Linked DNA regions of Homo sapiens: region 2 is linked to region 1. The links come from fine-mapping of genetic effects on gene expression. A gene starts in region 1. The other region holds a variant in brackets. All regions are shown on one strand. Distances are between the middles of the regions. Region 1 holds the start of LPL (lipoprotein lipase). Region 2 has its middle 110 kb from the start of SLC18A1.

Region 1 (9,688 bases):
CCCATCAAGCTACCAATGACTTTCTTCACAGAATTGGAAAAAACTACTTTAAAGTTCATATGGAACCAAAAAAGAGACCGCATCGCCAAGTCAATCCTAAGCCAAAAGAACAAAGCTGGAGGCATCACGCTACCTGACTTCAAACTATACTACAAGGCTACAGTCACCAAAACAGCATGGTAGTGGTACCAAAACAGAGATATAGATCAATGGAACAGAACAGAGGCCTCAGAAATAATGTCCTATATCTACAACTATCTGATCTTTGACAAACCTGACAAAAACAAGAAATGGGGAAAGTATTCCCTATTTAATAAATGGTGCTGGGAAAACTGGCTAGCCATATGTAAAAAGCTGAAACTGGATCCCTTCCTTACACCTTATACAAAAATTAATTTAAGATGGATTAAAGACTTAAATGTTAGATCTAACTGCATAAAAACCCTAGAAGAAAACCTAGGCAATACCATTCAGGACATAGGCATGGTCAAGGACTTCATGACTAAAACACCAAAAGCAATGGCAACAGAAGCCAAAATTGACAAATGGTATCTAATTAAACTAAAGAGCTTCTGCACAGCAAAAGAAACTACCATCAGAGTGAACAGGCAACCTACAGAATGGGAGAAAATTTTCGCAACCTACTCATCTGACAAAGGGCTAATATCCAGAATCTACAATGAACTCAAACAAATTTACAAGAAAAAAACAAACAAACCCATCAAAAAGTGGGCGAAGGATATGAACAGACACTTATCAAAAGAAGACATTTATGCAGCCAAAAGACACATGAAAAAATGCTCACTGGCCATCAGAGAAATGCAAATCAAAACCACAATGAGATACCATCTCACACCAGTTAGAATGGCGATCATTAAAAACTCAGGAAACAACAGGTGCTGGAGAGGATGTGGAGAGATAGGAACACTTTTACACTGTTGGTGGGACTGTAAACTAGTTCAACCATTGTGGAAGTCAGTGTGGTGATTCCTCAGGGATCTAGAACTAGAAATACCATTTGACCCAGCCGTCCCATTACTGGGTATATACCCGAAGGATTATAAATCATGCTGCTATAAAGACACATGCACATGTATGTTTATTGTGGCACTATTCACAATAGCAAAGACTTGGAACCAACCCAAATGTCCAACAACGATAGACTGGATTAAGAAAATGTGGCACATATACACCATGGAATACTATGCAGCCATAAAAAATGATGAGTTCATGTCCTTTGTAGGGACATGGATGAAACTGGAAAACATCATTCTCAGCAAACTATCACAAGGACAAAAAACCAAACACCACATGTTCTCACTCATAGGTGGGAATTGAACAATGCAAACACATGGACACAGGAAGGGGAACATCACACACTGGGGACTGTTGTGGGGTGGGGGGAGGGGGAGGGATAGCATTAGGAGATATACCTAATGTAAATGACAAGTTAATAGGTGCAGCACACCAACATGGCACAGGTATACATATGTAACAAACCTGCACGTTGTGCACATTTACCCTAAAACTCAAACTATAATAATAATAAAATGTTTTAAAAATTCAATAGATTTTACAATATTTTTAAATAATTATGACTTTGTATTTATACATTTTATTTGTATTAGTATGTTTTCTTACATTAATTATACTTTTTATAAGGACAAGATCCGACTCAGTACTGATGTTCTTTAGAGCCTACTTACACATTTCATTGTATTTTACTTTAGTAAGAAAGCCACAAAATAAAAATCTACATTAAAATATGTGTGTACAAAAAAAATCTGATTCCCAGCCTATTCCTGTTTGCAATTGCTGCAACATTAAAATATAGCACATCAAATACATATTTGCTTCTCGGCTAGGATCGCCAAAGAAAAAACATCTTATGATTTGTGGTTGCTGTTATTTAATCTTCCCTGAGCTTCATCTTCCCTCATCTGTAGAAGGGGAATATTATTGAGTTTGGAGTGCTTTTGTAATGATTAAACACAGTAGAAGATGAAAAGTGCCCAGTGCAATTAGCAGGCCTTCAATCAAAATAAGCAAGCTAGCTAGCTAGCTGGCTGGCCAGCTAAATAATGCTTCCCTACATCCAGAATTTCCAGTTGTTTCATTAGATATGCACATTCAAGTTTTTACTTAGGTAATTTTAAATGTGTCCCAGTGGCAAGTGTCCTGCTAAAGGGGTACTGTTAGCTTCTTCTCACCTAAAACTTAGTTTGTTACAAAGGAAATGCCAATTATGGAAAAAGTCAAGCCTTGAGCTACTGAAGGCCGAGTAACCTCGCCAAAGTTTGGATGAGTCGCTTCACTAATGCACATGCAATCCTGACCTAGAGATCATGTGAGTTTCTGCGTTAGAAGGCGGGCACCTGATGGCTCCCAGTGCAGCCAATCAGGAGAGAACGTTGCCGCCACACCCACCTGCTCCGCGCTGGCCCTGGGAGAGGAGCCAACCTGTCTTGCTTTTTTTTTTTTTTTAACCAGGCTAAGCTGCTGTAAATTAAGTCTTCCTGGAAATCTCAGCAACTCTATTGGACGTGCTAATGGCACAGTTCACTCCAAACTGGATTCATATTTAAATATTACATATCCTCCAACTCTTGAGTGCTTTAATTTTGTTATCTGGTTAGCCTGGGAAATCATTTTAAAAATACGCTATAAGTATCAGACTTTCCCTTAGCAATTATATAAAATCTCCTTGCAGTTTTCTGAAAGGCACAGAAGTGCAGTTTGATTTGGTTGTCTTATCAAAGGACATTTATGCATGAAAATAGGCTGCAGGAGTATTCTATATAAGATAGCAGGCAGTTCTGCACGTCTGTTTATATGCCATTCACACCATGAACACATCCAATGCAATTGTATTCATCTTCTGTCATTTTTTAAAATTAGAGTTTACTACATGATTTTTGGAGGACGGCCATATCATAGTTATTCATCCCTTGCATGGTCTGTTCTGCCACTTCTAAAGTTCTGCGAAGTTTAATTTTTGGCAGGTTTCAAGATTCTCTACATACTTTGTAGGTTAGAGTGAACGTGCACAGTATATTGTGTAATAATTGCAATACAAGACGGTGTGTTGTGTTGTGGCACGGAATGCATCAACTTAAAGATAGAATTGTTATGCAGAATAGAGACCTTTGAAATATTTGGGTATTATCAACTTTTATTTCATTTTTTGAGAAAAACTTAAAAAGTGAGCCCAGTTTTTTAAAAAGCATTTCATTGTTCTAACCTACAATTGTGCATTGTATGTTTGTGTGTGTGTGACGGAGGGTGGGATGAATAAAAGGGGACATTAAAAATATTCAGACCATAAATATAGTAGATTGGAGGTTCTGATTTGATGAGCCAGTTTCTCAGCCATAAACTGAGAGGGGGTTGGGGATACACTTCATTGTCCTTCCTGGCTAATGTAAATCCCTTATATTTAAAAAGATATTTAAAAGTATTCCAAGCATTTTGGCAGAAAAGCATAGTATCTAATGTTATTTTTTTCTTATTTTATGTGCATGCCTCTTATCCATTTAAAAATAGCTTTACTGACCTATAATTTACACACTATATAATTCTCCCATTGAAAGTGCATAATTCTGTTGCTTTTAGTATATTTACAGAGTTGTGCAGCATCAGCATAATGTAATCTAGAACATTGTCATCAACTACCCCCAAATCTCTATTCTTCCCTTCCCCTATTAATTACCCAGCCCCAGGCAAGCACTGATCTACTTTTGGTCTCTATGGATTTGTCTATTTGTGGACACTTTAAATGGAATCATACAATATGTGTCTTTTGCGACTATCTTCTTTCACTTATCATAACTCAATACGGCTTTAGATTATTTGACCTCGATGTTCTGCCTCTGAACATAAAATATTATCCTTGCATTCCTTGATGAGTTTGAGGATTGAGAATAATTTGCATGAGACAAAAATTAGAAACTAGTTAGAGCAAGTAGGCTTTTCTCCATCACATAAGCTGATCCATCTTGCCAATGTTAAAACACCAGATTGTACAAGCACAAGCTGGGACGCAATGTGTGTCCCTCTATCCCTACATTGACTTTGCGGGGGTGGGGATGGGGTGCGGGGTGAGTGAGGGAGGACTGCAAGTGACAAACAGGATTCGTCAAAAGAGAGGTGTATTAAAGTGCCGATCAAATGTAATTTAACAGCTAAACTTTCCCTCCTTGGAAAACAGGTGATTGTTGAGTATTTAACGTGAATCGATGTAAACCTGTGTTTGGTGCTTAGACAGGGGGCCCCCGGGTAGAGTGGAACCCCTTAAGCTAAGCGAACAGGAGCCTAACAAAGCAAATTTTTCCGTCTGCCCTTTCCCCCTCTTCTCGTTGGCAGGGTTGATCCTCATTACTGTTTGCTCAAACGTTTAGAAGTGAATTTAGGTCCCTCCCCCCAACTTATGATTTTATAGCCAATAGGTGATGAGGTTTATTTGCATATTTCCAGTCACATAAGCAGCCTTGGCGTGAAAACAGTGTCAGACTCGATTCCCCCTCTTCCTCCTCCTCAAGGGAAAGCTGCCCACTTCTAGCTGCCCTGCCATCCCCTTTAAAGGGCGACTTGCTCAGCGCCAAACCGCGGCTCCAGCCCTCTCCAGCCTCCGGCTCAGCCGGCTCATCAGTCGGTCCGCGCCTTGCAGCTCCTCCAGAGGGACGCGCCCCGAGATGGAGAGCAAAGCCCTGCTCGTGCTGACTCTGGCCGTGTGGCTCCAGAGTCTGACCGCCTCCCGCGGAGGGGTGGCCGCCGCCGACCGTAAGTTTTGCGCGCAAACTCCCCTCCACCTGCAGACCCGGCGGGTGGCCACTGCCACCCGAACTGAGGATGAGAAGAAGGAAGTTGGAAGGGGCGGTGGATGCGCCCAGGGACTCTCCCAGCCTGGGCTCTAGCCCCGAAACGGTCCCCGGAGTGGGATCCAGGAGGGGCCGGGAGGGAATCTCCTCCCGATCGTGAAGCGGCGGCGCCCAGTTCCCGCTTTTTCTCTCTGCCGGGTTCCCGCGCTATCCCTTCCACTCTGGCTGGGACCGCGTTCCCGGGCTCGCAGGCTCCGCCGGGGAGGTTCCGGGGTGTGGGGGCCGGGACGGCGGAGGCGGGGAGTAAGGGCCCGGCTGGCGGTGACCTGCAGTCACCTCTCTGCCGGAGGGGCCCTGGAATGAAAGGCGCGCGGGCCAAGGTGACCTCGCCTTGGTTGGCACTGCGGCTCAGCCCCCGCCCGGGGACTCGCGGGCCGACTGTGGCCCCTTCTGGGGAAGCCGGGGCGCGGGGAGGCGTTCCGGGCATCTCAGCCGCACGGGGTACGCTCGCCCTCGGCGGGGCCCCTCGCTCCGCTGTGGGAGTGGCAGTGGGTGTCGGGGTGGAGAAAGTACGCGTGGCGCGGAGTCCTGGGGACGCGGCGTCCCACCCGCTCTGGGGAGCCCCGGACTCTCTCCAGCTTCCAGGCTCGCATGCCCCTCTTTTCTTAGTGCCCTGAGAACCCAGCGAGGGGCTGACCCTCCCGAAACCGTGGCGCAGCCACCAGCAATCTGTGGTCGCCGACTCGGGGGGTTGCCAGGTCTGCGTTTGGCCACCCTTTCTGTCCTGGGGGCTGAGGTCAGCTCCGGGCGCCCGGCCCCGCCGCGCGGCTGCGAGCACGTGGGGTTGACGGGCGCCGCGTGGAGGCAGCGAGCACAACGGTGGTCACCGCCGCCAGGGAACCGCCCGCTCGCTGGGGTCCAGGCGTTCGGGGCCAAATGAGAATGTCTCAGACCTGTCCGCAATGGAGGCAGCCTGCTTAATTCGAACCTCGATTCAGTAAACATGCAACAGCAGCATAGAGAGCAGCTGAAGCCATTCATAACACGGGACAACATTTCCTTTTTTCTTCCATGCTGGAATTGCAATTAGGGCGGTGTCGCTTGGATGTGCTCTCAGGCGGCACGTCCCCAGCGGTTCAAGTTATAATAGAGTCTCTCCATAGCTTTGATGGCCGCTAAACGTTTGTTTTATTTTGGCATTAATTTGTGAAACATTTTTGTTAGGTTAAAAAACAAAAAGTTGGCAGGGAGCAGTGGCTCACCCATGTAGTCCCAGCACTTCGGGAGGCCGAGGCCGGAAGACAGCTTGAGCCCAGAAGTTCGAAATCAGCCTGGGCAACATAGGGAGACACCGTCTCTATAAAAAAAAAATACAAAAATTAGCCGGGCGTGGTGGCCTGTGCCTGTGGTCCCAGATAGTCAGCAGGCTGAGAGATCACTTGAGCCAGGGAGTTTCAGTAGACTGCAGTGAGCTGTGATTGCCCCACTGCACTTCATCCTGGGTGACAGTGAGACCCTGTCTCATAAAATTAAAACAAAACAAAACAAACACTAAGTATAGATTCCATCAAAGCAAAATTGGATAAGAAAAAAAGTATCTTTTCTATTGGATCAGTTTGAAAACACTGGAGAGTTGATGAGAAAGTCTTCAACATCTTAGGTGGGGTATGTTTCGTATGTTTCCCTTCGTACTGCTTAATGCTGACAAGAAGATGGTAGGAGCCAACTCCAAATTCTTATTTCAGAAAGCACACCATAGAATAACGTCATTTTCATTGCAAAACAAGCACCGAAATATGTCATCACATTCAAGTTTTTCCTAGGCTCCCTTACAGGTTCAAGATCCTAAATTCTTGGGAGTCAGTGTCACCTCTCTGGGTTTAGGTTCCTCAACTCTGCAATGAGTTTGGATGAGGCCAATGTTCTCTGAGCCTGGTGTAACTCTTGCCTCTTTAAGTGGACACTTATGTGATTAATTAGTTTAATTGAGTTGTAGCCAACACATGCTTTTCCTAGCTGTAAATATATTAAGGAAGGATTATTTCCAAGTAGACTGGAAACGATGCCCTCCCATCCCCTCCACTTTCACTCTACTCACCCAATATATCATGCCTCTCCCATCACAGCAACTTTCTCCCTCTTTCTCCTCCAGATGCATTCATCTAGGAAGGTAAGAATTTCAGGGAGAGAAAGATGTCACCGTGGTAGAAAGACAGGGATCACCTCCTCTGGGCTCTTGAGTTTACTTATTCATTCTGGATTCTTTCTAACAAGAATATGAGGACAAGAGGCACTGTCCTCAGGCACTTCGTCCTGGGAGCCACCACCATCTCTGCATGGCCCCAATTAGGAAACGTGAAGAGCTAGGAGAGGGAGAGTATGGTCAGTGCTTAGCAGCTGAAGTTCCACTTGCCTGGCCATCGTGAATTTCCAGGCTGTCTTCTGAGTTGAACATGATGGCAAAGGAGAGCAAAATAGCAGATGTCACTGAAGGAGAGCTCAGCGAGGGAGTGATTGATTAATAGCTGTATTGAAAGGTGGGAGTCAGGTACGGGGGAAGAGCGGCGATGGAAAATTTTCGCTTTCTTTCAGCAGCTTATTTTTAACTCAGCTTTCTGTTCTTGCTTTATTATGGAGGAAAAATTGGGCCATAGAGTTTACTGCCTTATGCCAGATTGTTCAAGAAAATGCCTTGCAACTTACAATATTTTGCAGCTAGTTTCTTCCGTGACCACCACAAAGACTGCATTGACTTAAATATGAAGATGTTCCAGCCATCAAAATGATGGTTGGTGATGATTTTGGATCACAAAGTGTAAGGAAAGTATTCAAGACATGAGTATCATGATTTTTTAAGGTCTGGATGAAGAGACCATTTGGATTTACTAATAAGGTAAATTCCAACTTTTATGGCAATAAAAACAACAAAAACACTTATCAGTGTAAAGCTTTGGGATCATCTATCCATTAAATGAGTTTGTCACCACAGTGAACTAAATACCTTTTATCAACAGAGACTTTCTAACCTGGGAGTAAAATTCTTGTCACAGTGCTTTTGTCACATTCTGTCTTTGCAAAAGTTGAAGGCTCCAATAGTTTCTGAAGGACTAATAGGATAGGGTTCCAACTTACTCAGAGGCTAAGAGTTTGAAATTTACTCTGAACGATGTCTGTTCACTAGACTGCGTGACTGCAGTTTGCTGTCTTGTGGCCATTTTAAGATTGTCTGTGTGCACTGACACCATTTGCGTACTCAACAACAGGTATCTACTAGGAAGGAAGGAATGGATTATCTTAGGTGCTATATATATATGTAAGTTCTGCCGGAAGTGAGCCTATTAAACTTGTGCCAATTCATTCCTTTTGCTCTTCCCAGTCTGTGCTCTCAGAATGATCAAATGCTATCTAAGTAGTGTGGTGATTTTGACTGTTTGAATGAATAAACGAAAACGTCTCCCACCATTATTTGACAGTAGAATAGAACAAAGATGACCCAGTTGGCGTGGCCACACTGTGTCTAATCCAGCCACCTTGCTCACAGCACTCAACCCACTTTGGTGTGTGCGCTCATCTGTATTTTCGTAAATGTTGAAGTCTCTTTCTATGCAGTCAGGTAGGGGTAATACCATTCTGGCTTGGATTAATTTGAGTGTAGTACAAAGTTTAGAGAAGCTTTTAAGTAGCATGAAAAGTCAGATGCTTTCGGAGGGATGGTGGTGAATGTAGGTAAATGGATCTGCACTTAGAGATCCTCAACAGCCCTTCATTCAAGATACAGCTATCATGACATCAATAATGTACCTTTGAAAAAAAATTGGCTGCAGAATTAATTACGGTGAAAAACAGTATAGGAGTTAGCACTTACATTTTAACTAAAAAGAATAGCGTCCCCATGTTTATTCAGCCCTCCCTCCAATAAAACAATTGTTGGCAAAGTAATCATGGACTTTCATTGTGTTAGTTTGAGACAACTGGATGTTTCCATTTGCCATCCTCAGCAACAAGAAGAAAGTAGTCTCAGATTAACCAGGTAAGTATTTTGTATTTCACTTAAAAAATCTTGACTGAAATATGCCTATGTGATGACACTCAACCAAATTATTTCATTAACCAGTCCACAAGATCTCCTTAAATAATGATGGCTTATTCACACTTGATGGTCTCATTCAGTGGGGCAATTTTAATACACATCTCTGAACCTATTTTTTAACCCCTCTTTTTCAGTAGTGTGGAAGGTTAGCCCTAATATTGGAGAAAATTCAGGGTAAAATTCAGATGATTCATACAGGATTTATTTTTCCTATTCCATTAATAAAACAACTTTTATAAAAATAAAAAGTAGGCTGGCACAGTGGCTCACTCCTGTAATCCCAGCATTTTGGGAGGCCGAGGCGGGTGGATCATGAGGTCGGGAGTTCAAGACCAGCGTGGCCAGGATGGTGAAACCCCATCTCTACTAAAAATACAAAAATTAGCCAGGCGTGGTGGCAGGCACCTGTAATCCCGGCTACTCGGGAGGCTGAGGCAGAGAATGGCTTGAACCCAGGAGGCATAGGTTGCAGTGAGTCACGATCGTGCCACTGCACTCCAGCCTGGGTGACAGAGCAAGACTCCGTTTCAAAAAATAATAATAAAATAAAATGAAATAAAGTAAAGCTGCATGTTAGAGAAGTCAAGAGCATTACTTACGTTAGAATATCTGAACAGACCAATCAATTCAGTCTGATCATGATATTGATGTTTTTCTTCACCAAATCGACCACATCAGTAATTCACTTTGTTCTTCGATATCCTACAGACACTGCCTGAGTCGATAACTATGACTATCAGTCTCAGAGAGCAAATGAATTACTGAGGAAGCCCTGTAGGAG
Region 2 (9,688 bases), 130 kb after region 1:
ATAGCTGGGACCTAATTGAACTAAAGAGCTTTTACACAGCAAAAGGAACAGTCAGCAAAGTAAACAGACAATGCAGAGTGGGAGAAAATCTTCACAATCTATACATCCAACAAAGGACTGATATCCAGAATCTTCAACGAACTCAAACAAATCAGTAAGAAAAAAAAACAAACCATCCCATCAAAAAGCGGGTTAAGGACATGAATAGACAATTCTCAAAAGAAGATATACAAATGGCCAACAAACATATGAAAAAATGCTCAGCATCACTCATCATCAGAGAAATGCAAATCAAAACCACAGTGCAATACCACCTCACTCCTGCAAGAATGGCCATAATCAAAAAATCAAAAACCAGATATTGGTGTGGATGTGCTGAACAGGGAACACTTCTATACTGCTGGCGGGAATATAAACTAGTACAGCCACTATGGAAAACTGTGTGGAGATTCCTTAAAGAACTAAAAATAGAACTACCATTTGATCCAGCAATCCCACTACTGGGTATCTACCCAGAGGAAAAGAAGTAATTATTTGAAAAAGATACTTCCACACGCATGTTTATAGCAGCACAACTCACAATTGCAAATCGTGGAACCAAGCCAAATGACCATCAATCAACGAGTGGATAAAGAAACTGTGGTATATATATATATACACGATGGAATACTTCACAGCCATAAAAAGGAATGAATTAACAACATTTGCAGCGACCTGGATGAGATCGGAGACTATTATTCTAAGTGAAGTAACTCAGAAATGGAAAACCAAGTATCTTATGTTCTCATTGATGTGTGGGAGCTAAGCTGTGAGGACACAAAGGCATAAGAATGGTGCAACGGACTTTGGAGACTTGCAGGGGTGAGGGATGGAAGACTACAAATATGGTGCAGTGTATACTGCTTGGGTGATGGGTGCACCAAAATCTCACAGATCACCACTAAAGAACTTACTCATGTAACCAAATACCATCTGTCCCCCAATAACTTATGGAAAAATTAAAAAATTAAAAAATTAAAGGTACAGTAAAAATACAGTACAAAAGATAAAAAATGCTACACCTGTATAGTTCACTTACCATGAAAAGAACTTGCAGGACTAGAAGCTGCCCTGAGTGAGTGAATGTGAAGGCCTCGGACATTACTGTCCAACACTGTAGGCTTTGTAAATAGCGTACACTTAGGCTACAGTAAATTTTTAAAAAAATTCTTTCTCCAATATTAAATTAACCTTCGCTTACCGTAACATTTTTACTTCACAAACTTTAAAAACTTTTTAAACTTTTTTATTCTTTTGTAATAACACTTAGCTTAAAACACAAACCCACTGTACAGCTGTACAAAAATATTTTATTTCTTTATATCCTTATTCTATAAGCTTTTCTCTATTTTTAAATTTTTTATTTTAGTTTTTACTTTTTAAAACTTTTTTGTTAAAAACTAAAGCACAAACAGACACATTAGCCTAGGCCTACACAGGGTCAGGATGATCCATATCATTGTCCTCCCCCTCCACTCCTGTTCCACTGGAAGGTCTTCAGGGACAGTAACAATCACAGAGCTGTCATCTCGTAGGATAACAACGTCTTATTCTGGAATACTCTCTAAAGGACCTATGTGAGGCTGTTTTACAATTAGCTTTTTTTTTTAATAAGTAGAAGTACACTCTAAAATGATGCTACAATGTATAGTATGGTAAACACATAAACCAGTAACTTGGTCATTTTATCACTATCAAGTATTATGATGTAATATACATAATTGTATGTGCTATACTTTTACATAACTGGCAGTGAAGTAGGTTTGTTTACACCAGTGTCACCACAAACATGGGAGTAATGCATTGCACTATGACATTTGTTATGACAGCTACAATATCACTAGGAAATAGAAAATTTTCAGCTCCATTATAATCTTATGGGACCACCATCGTATATGTGGTCTGTCATTGACCAAAACGTCATTATGCAGCACATGACCGTACATTGACTGAGACACGGATTCATGGATTCCATATTTGTGAATTTGCCTGCTCCCTAAAATGTATTTCTAACCTCAGAATCAATACACATGCCACTTCTGCAGTGTTTGTGCACATCCATAGAGTAGCAAGACATTTGAAATACTGACATGATTACTCTGCCTTTCTGTTTCAGCTCTCATGATGTAAACGAGTGTCCTTTTCATTGTATCATGGGTTTTGTGCGTGCTTTGTGTTGGTAATTTTGCTATTTAAAATGGCCCGCAAGTGTAGCTGCTGAAGTTTTGTCTAGTGCAGGGGTCTCCAACTCCTGGGCCTGGTACTGTTCTGTGGACTTTTAGGAACTGGGCCCCATAGCAGGAGGTTAGCAGTGTGTGAGCAAAGCTTCATCTGTATTTACAGCTGCTCCCCATTGCTTGCATTACTGCCTGAGTTCTGCCTCCTATCAGATCACTGGTGGTATTAGATTCTCATAGAAGCACAAACCCTACTGTGAACTGTGCGTGTAAGGGGTCTAGGTTGCACACTCCTTACGAGAATCTAATGCCTGATGATCCGTGACTGTCTCCCATCATCCCCAGAAGGGACTGTCTAGTTGCAGGCAAACAAGCTCAGGGCTTCCCCTGATTCTACATTACCATGAGTTGTATAATTATTTCATTATATATTACAATGTAATAATAGAAATAAAGTACACAATAAATGTAATGGGCTTGCATCATCCTGAAACTATCCCCACTCAAGTCCATGAAAAAATAGTCTTCCATGAAACCAGTCCCTGGTGCCAAACACTGCTGGCCTAGTGTTCCTAAGTGCAAGAAGGCTGTGATATGTTATAGAGAAATACATGTGTCAGATAAGCTTTTGCTCAGTTAGGAATGATAGTGCTGTTGGCCTTGAGTTCAGTGTCAATGAATCAACAATGTTAAATAAAGTGTCTTCAAACAGTGATACACGTCAAACAAGGTTATGTATTGACCACTGGAGGAAAATACTGTAACCAGAGGCTTGCAGGTGCCTGTATTTCCATTAGGAGCAATGACTCAGTATTCACTAATTTAGTGTTACAGCGACTTTACAGACCATAACTACCATGAATAAGAAGCAGCAGCTATATATGACTTTAAGAATTATTCAGTGTGATTCTGATGTAAGTTTCCACATGTTCTCCTGAAACAGCCTTAACCAACCCCAGGCCAGATTCACTCAGTGCCCCACTGCCTCATCTCCCTCCTTTACATCCTCCTGCCCCAGAAGCAAGAAAGCGATTGTTGCCCACCTGAGGAAAAAACTGTTTTTATACTCGCAACACCTGTGACACCTAATGCGGGAGGTTTTTTTGTTTTGTTTTGTTTTTTTTCCACACCAATCACCAACACTGTGACTCTCCAGACATCAACTAGGTGTCCAGTAATTCAACTCAATTCCGAAACTAACCACCAGGAGTTAGATCACACCCCACTAGTGAAGGGCTCAGTCCCACACACAAGCCCCCCACTTCAGATGCCAGTAGTAAATCTGGACCTCCAAACTTCTGGCCAACTGGCTACAAATAAGGGGTCCCCACGACCCCATGCTTGGATTTAATATTTTGCTCGACTGCCTCACAGAATCCAGGAAAACAGTCTACTCGTTTATTATAAAAGACACGACTCAGGAACAGCGTATGGAAGAGAGGCTGTATTTGTCCGTTTTTACGCTGCTGATAAAGACACACCCGAGATGGGAAAGAAAAGGAGATTTAATTTGACTTACAGTTCCACATGGCTGGGGAGGCCTCAGAATCATGGCAGGAGGCGAAAGGCACTTCTCACGTGGCGGAGGCAAAAGAAAATGAGAATGAAGCAAAAGCGGAAGCCCCTGATAAAACCATCAGATCTCGTGAGACTTATTCACTATCACGAGAATAGCACGCACGAGAAAGACTGACCCCATGATTCAATTACCTCCCCCTGGGCCCCTCCCACAATTCATGGGAATTCTGGGAGATACAATTTAAGTTGAGATTTTGGTGGGGAAACAGCCAAACCGTATCAGACGCCCAGGACAATGTATGGGGAAGGGGCAGAGAGCTTCCATGCCCTCTCCAGGAGCACCACCCTCTAGGCACCTCCACGTGTTCACCAGTCCAGAAGCTCTCCAAACCCCATTATTTAGGGGTTTTTATGGAGGTTTTATTACATAAACACAATTGATTAAATCATTGGCCATTGGTGATTAACTCAATCCCCAGCCTCTCTCCCCTTCCTTAGGTTTGGGGCGGGTGATGGGGCTGAATTTGATTCCTCTGGCAACCAGTCCCCAACTTGTTAGGAACGACAAAAGAAGCTCCTCCCACTCCCATCACTCAGGGAGCTCCTAGGGGTTCTTAGACGCTCTTGTACCAGGAACCAGGGGCAGAAATCAAATATATAGTTCTTAATTTCTTATAACACCCCTCCCAGAAATTCTATCTTGCGTCACTATTGGGAGGGTCAGTGTGGCCTGCTTTGTGAGCGGTTTTTTTTCTTTTATTGGTTTGGTACGCCGGGTGCGGTGGCTCACGCCTGTAATCCCAGCACTTTGGGAGGCCAAGGCAGGTGGATCACGAGGTCAGGAGTTCGAGACCAGCCTGGCCAATATGGTGAAAACCAGTCTCTACTAAAAATACAAAAATTAGCATGCGCGCCTATAGTCCCAGCTACTCGGGAGGATGAGGCGGAAGAATCACTTGAACCCGGGAGGTGGAGGTTGCAGTGAGCCGAAATCGGGCCACTGCACTCCAGCCTGGGTGACAGAGTGAGATGCCATCTCAAAAAATAAAAATTAATAAATAAGTAAATAAGAAAGCAAGAAAATTTGCTGTTGCATTGTGGGGATATCCTCTGATGGCTGTCCTTGCATGGTGCCATATTGGTACTGCATGTGCTCATATGCGTATATCCTGTATGTATTTCATATGTTAAGAGATAAAGGGTGCCTCTGTTTCTTCCAAAAACTTCCTGGCTATGGATTAACAGAACTACGTGATCAAAGGGAATCCAAGATTGAAGGGTTAGAGGAAGTGAAAGGAAATTTAATTGAGAAAGGACAGGGCATCCTTAGTGAAGAATTGGGATCCAAAGTCAGAAGTAAGCTCTCCTGGTGATGGAGGAAGCAGAAGCAGTCTGTTGCCTGAGCTCTCTGTTATGTAACTTCAAGGATTCTCACACTCACTCGCACACCCCAGAGTCAGGAGGTGGGGCGTGGGAAAGTACATGGTAGAGGTCACCCCTCTGTAACTTGCAGCAGGGGCTGGGGACACAAAGGCCCTTGAGAAAGCAGCTGATTTCCTCCCCAGCACAGGCCGGTCACCACAGGGAAGATTCCAGAAGAGGAAATTTGCTCAGCTCATAACAAAGTTTATTAGCTTAGCAGATCTGTGTGTCAAACGAGA[A/G]TCCGTTTCTAAAGACTCCATTCATCAAATTGGCTCAAGCTTAGTCATTTGTGAAAAAACTGCCAAAGACCCCACAAAGACAGCATACAGAAAAAACTTGCAGCCCAAGGTTTGGGAGGATTTGAAATATATAAACACAAGAATCAGAGATAAATACCAACTACCTAAGATTATGAGCTGATTTCCTCAAGGGTGGATAGTTAGATATAGAAGGAAACTGTAATTGCTCCATGGGTTTTTCCTGCCCACTGTCCAGACAAAACCAATTCATTGCAACCGTGACACTGCAATAAGGAAGTTTAATTGACACAAGACCAGCCATGCCATGTGGGAGATGAAGTTATTACCCAAATCAATCTCCCTGAGAATTCAGAGGCTAGGGTTTTTTAAGAATAGTTTGGTGGGCGGGGGGCTGAGGGAATGGGTACTGCTTGATTGGATGCAATCACAGCGGTGTGGAAAGTGGTCCTTGTACAGAGTCCCTTCTGGGTAGGAGCCACAGGAGCAGAGTCCTGGGTCCGGGTGGGCCATCTGGTAGTTAGAAATGCAAAAATCTGAAAGGACATCTCAAAAGGCCAATCTTGTTAGGTTCCACAATAGCGATGTTATCTACAGGAGTAATCGGAGAATTTGCAAATCTTGTGACCTCTGGAATAATGGCCGGTAATGGTTCATTACCTTGTTTATAGGTAATAGTTTATTCTGCCTACATCTTAGCAGAATTCAGCCTCCTCTCATCCTCCTAACCTGGTAGTCTTTCATTAGTTTTAGAAAGATGGTTTACTTTTGGGGAAGGGCTGTTATCATTTAAATGATAAACTAAATTTCTCCCAAAGTTAGCTAGACCCAAGCCTAGGAATGGCCAAGGACAGTCTGGAAGTTAAAGGCAAGATGGAGATTGGTTAGATCAGATCTCTTTTACTGTCATAATTTTCACATTTTTAAAATTTTTGCAAAAGTGGTTTCAAAACTGTCCCAAATCTTGTTAGGCATGAGGGACAGGAGGGAACAGGAACAACTGAGATACCTTCTAGGCAGTTAATGCCAGAAGATGTCTCAAGACTGGGTTGGGTCTAGGTCAATTATTTGCGAAAGTGTGGGTGCAAACCATGTTCTATCTAGGGACTGCCAAAACTCAAAACTGGGAAGATGAAATTCTGCTACAGAGAATTCAAATGTGAGGCTAGAAATAAGAGACAAAGTCAAGATGAGGAAAGACAGTACACCACAGCAGTGCCTGCACTTGGCTCAACACCAAGGGGCACAATTCACACTGCAGTCTGTACGAATGGTGCCCAGTAGAGCTGGGCTGTGTGTACCCTGCACCATTGCTTTGTAGCTGTGGATAGTGAGATAAATAAACCAAGAAATGAGAGAGCCCTTGAATCAAAATGATCCAAGATAATTGCTGAGGATAAGGCTTGAGCTTCCTCGTTTTTATCAGCTCTCCATTTTCAAAGCACAAATGGCCTGAAATACAATGAAGATGCAGTAGAAAAAGCAACAGTCTAGAAATTAAGAGACGGGAGGTCAAATCACCCTCTGAGAAGTTGGTCATTTATTCAGTATTCTTGGCGTCTGGTTTATCTCTAAAGTGGAGACAATGAGAAGTGGTCTGCTTCTCTTCCTCTCGGGGTTGAACCAAGTTTGATCAAGGATATAAGCAAACACTGAAAATGAATGCTTTGCAAATGTCAGGGTTACACATGACGCAGTGGTCATGGTTTTAGCAGGGTGCTGAGACCTATCAATGGCCTACAAGACCCTGCAGTATCTGTCTCCTCTTGCTAGCCTCATCCACTCCACTCACACTGGCCCCTTTGCATTCCTCCAGTACCTGTCCCCAAGGGCCTTGTGAGTGGCTCTTCTCTCTGCTTGGCACACTGTCCTGCAGAACATCAGCTTGGCTTGCTACCTTCCCTCCTTTGGGTTTTATTCAAACATCAAGTTCTCAGTGAAGATTTCCCTGACAACACACTATTTAAAATGCTCACCTCCTAGCATTTTCTAAACCCTTCCCTATTTATTTTTTTTTTATCCCAAACACATCACTGTCTAATGCACAATTTAATTTACTTTTTCCTATGTTTATGTTTTGTCCTCCCCCATCAGAATGTAAGCTCCTGGAGGGCAGTGATTATAATGTTTTGGATCCTAAGCCAAAAATAAAGTCTAGAAAATTGGTAGGCACTCAAAAAAATATCAGATGTATGAAAGGGAAAAAGCTGTTCAAAGACACAAGCTCATCTCCTTACCAGGATGCCTTTTGCACTTCGGTTGAAATGGCTCCACCAAATAAAATGTCTGTTTCAGCACTTTGCTATCAATCTTGATTTTTGCTCCAATTCCTTTTGAGACTCCAGGACTGAAGTTTTAATTCCCCTTGCTTGTTGCCCAGCAAACAGCATTGAGAAATGAAAGGTCAATTTGGAGTTGACAATTTGCCAATTTGCCATATTTGCTGACCTACTAGTGAAATGAGCCATATTTCAGGGAAGGCTGTGGGTGAAGTGAGATGGGTTGTAAGAGCCCCACAGGGGAAAGAAAATGTGGAGAGCCCCATGCCAGACAACGGAATGTTTAACAGGCATTCAAAAAATACATGTAGCTTATTGCAAAAGAAAAAACAAGCTCTCTCTTGAGCTTTCTTTGTTGTTGTTTAAACAAAATATATCCTCTGAACTCAGTAACTTGGAGAAATCTGCTATTGCTGCAGAACTGGAAGCATATAGAGTTCTGCCAACAAGAAATCTATTCCCCTTTGGGGGTTATATTCTTATCTTGAGTTATTTTCTCTTGGCCTAGAATGTGCCACTGAATTATTCTCAAATGGCTTGCTTCTGGGTCAGTTCTTTATGCAAGGACACAGTTACCTCACTGTGATCTGGTCAAAGTCAGTCTCTGACCTGCTGGGAATAGAGAGGGAATGGAAAAGAGGCCACTTCTCTGCCATCTGAAAACAGGTGTTTGTAGATTATTTGCTCAAATTGGTTAATATAACGATGTTAGAACTTGAGTATATATATATATATATATATATATATATATATATATATATATTCCCAGGTTTAAGCGATTCTCCTGCCTCAGCCTCCCGAGTAGCTGGGATTACGGGCACGGCTAATTTTTGTATTTTTAGTAAAGATGGGGTTTCACCATGTTGGCTAGGCTGGTCTTGAACTGCTGACCTCAGGTGATCCGCCCACTTCGGCCTCCCAAATTGCTGGGATTATAGGTGTGAGCCACCGCACCCGGCCAGGACTTGAATATTTTCACCATATGAAATTATCTAGAGGATTCAGAATACACTCTGCAGAAGCAATACATCATCATACTAAAGACTAGGCTTTAGAATGAAATAGTCCTGCTTCAAATCTCATTCCTTCTACTAATGAGTTATATAATTTTGAGCAAATTACTTAAGCTGCCTGAGACTCAATATTTTCATCTCCAAAATGGGAATAATAATATATACATCAGTTTTTTCTGGGATGATAAAATGAGATAATGCATTTAAACAGCTCAACAAATTGTTCTTGTTTGTAATGATTATTCCAAAAACCCAGGAGCATAGTTTTGTTAACCAGGATGATTTACCCTTCATTGACAAGAGAACACAGAAGGCAGGTAGTGAAGACAACATAGTCCATCTGGTGAAACTTGGCCAAAGTGATCAGATGATGTTACTCTCCTGTCTAAATCATCCTGCAGCAAACCAACATGTCAGCATCAGAGCTGTTGGTCTGCAGATAGACGAGAGGCCAGTGGGAAGCTGGATCATACACCCTGGGACAAGGAAAATGATTCTTCCTCCCTCCCTTCCCCTTTCTGCCCTCCTTCCTTCCTTCCTGATACATCTTTCTAATTCTGTCATTCATGGCTGTCTTTTCCACACAGTGCCTATTGTGTGTCTACACTGGATGTTCTCAGGACTTGTATGGTCTAGACCCAGTTTGGCTCACTCACTAATTGAGTTGGACAAATCACTTTTACCACAGAGTTGAACGGTTAAGAGCATAAACTCAGAATTAGTCTATCTGGATTCTAAAAGCCTGCTCTACCACTTACTAGCTGTGTGACCTTCAGTGAGTTGCTTAAAACTCTCTGTGCCTCTGTTTATCCATCTGTGAAAAGGAGATTTACAACAGTGTCTATTTCACAAGGTTGGTGTGAGAATTCGATGAGTTACTAATGTGGACCACTTTAAACTGTACCTAGCACAAAAGCCTAATATCTCCTCATTATTCTAATAGATTTCTATTACTATCTGTAAAATAAGGGGATTGTGCCATC

Evidence for each region.
Region 2: its variant is fine-mapped to the expression of LPL in whole blood (TOPMed, PIP above 0.99).

What each region holds. Positions count from the first base shown.
Region 1 is chr8:19,934,750-19,944,437 of GRCh38, forward strand. It overlaps LPL (lipoprotein lipase), which reads left to right and starts at 4,504. Exons shown (of 10, transcript NM_000237.3): 1 at 4,504-4,779. The coding sequence starts at 4,692.
Region 2 is chr8:20,068,931-20,078,618 of GRCh38, forward strand. No RefSeq gene overlaps it. Among named protein-coding and RNA genes, the nearest start is that of SLC18A1, 110 kb to the right of the region's middle. The variant A/G (reference allele first, on the strand shown) is at 5,396.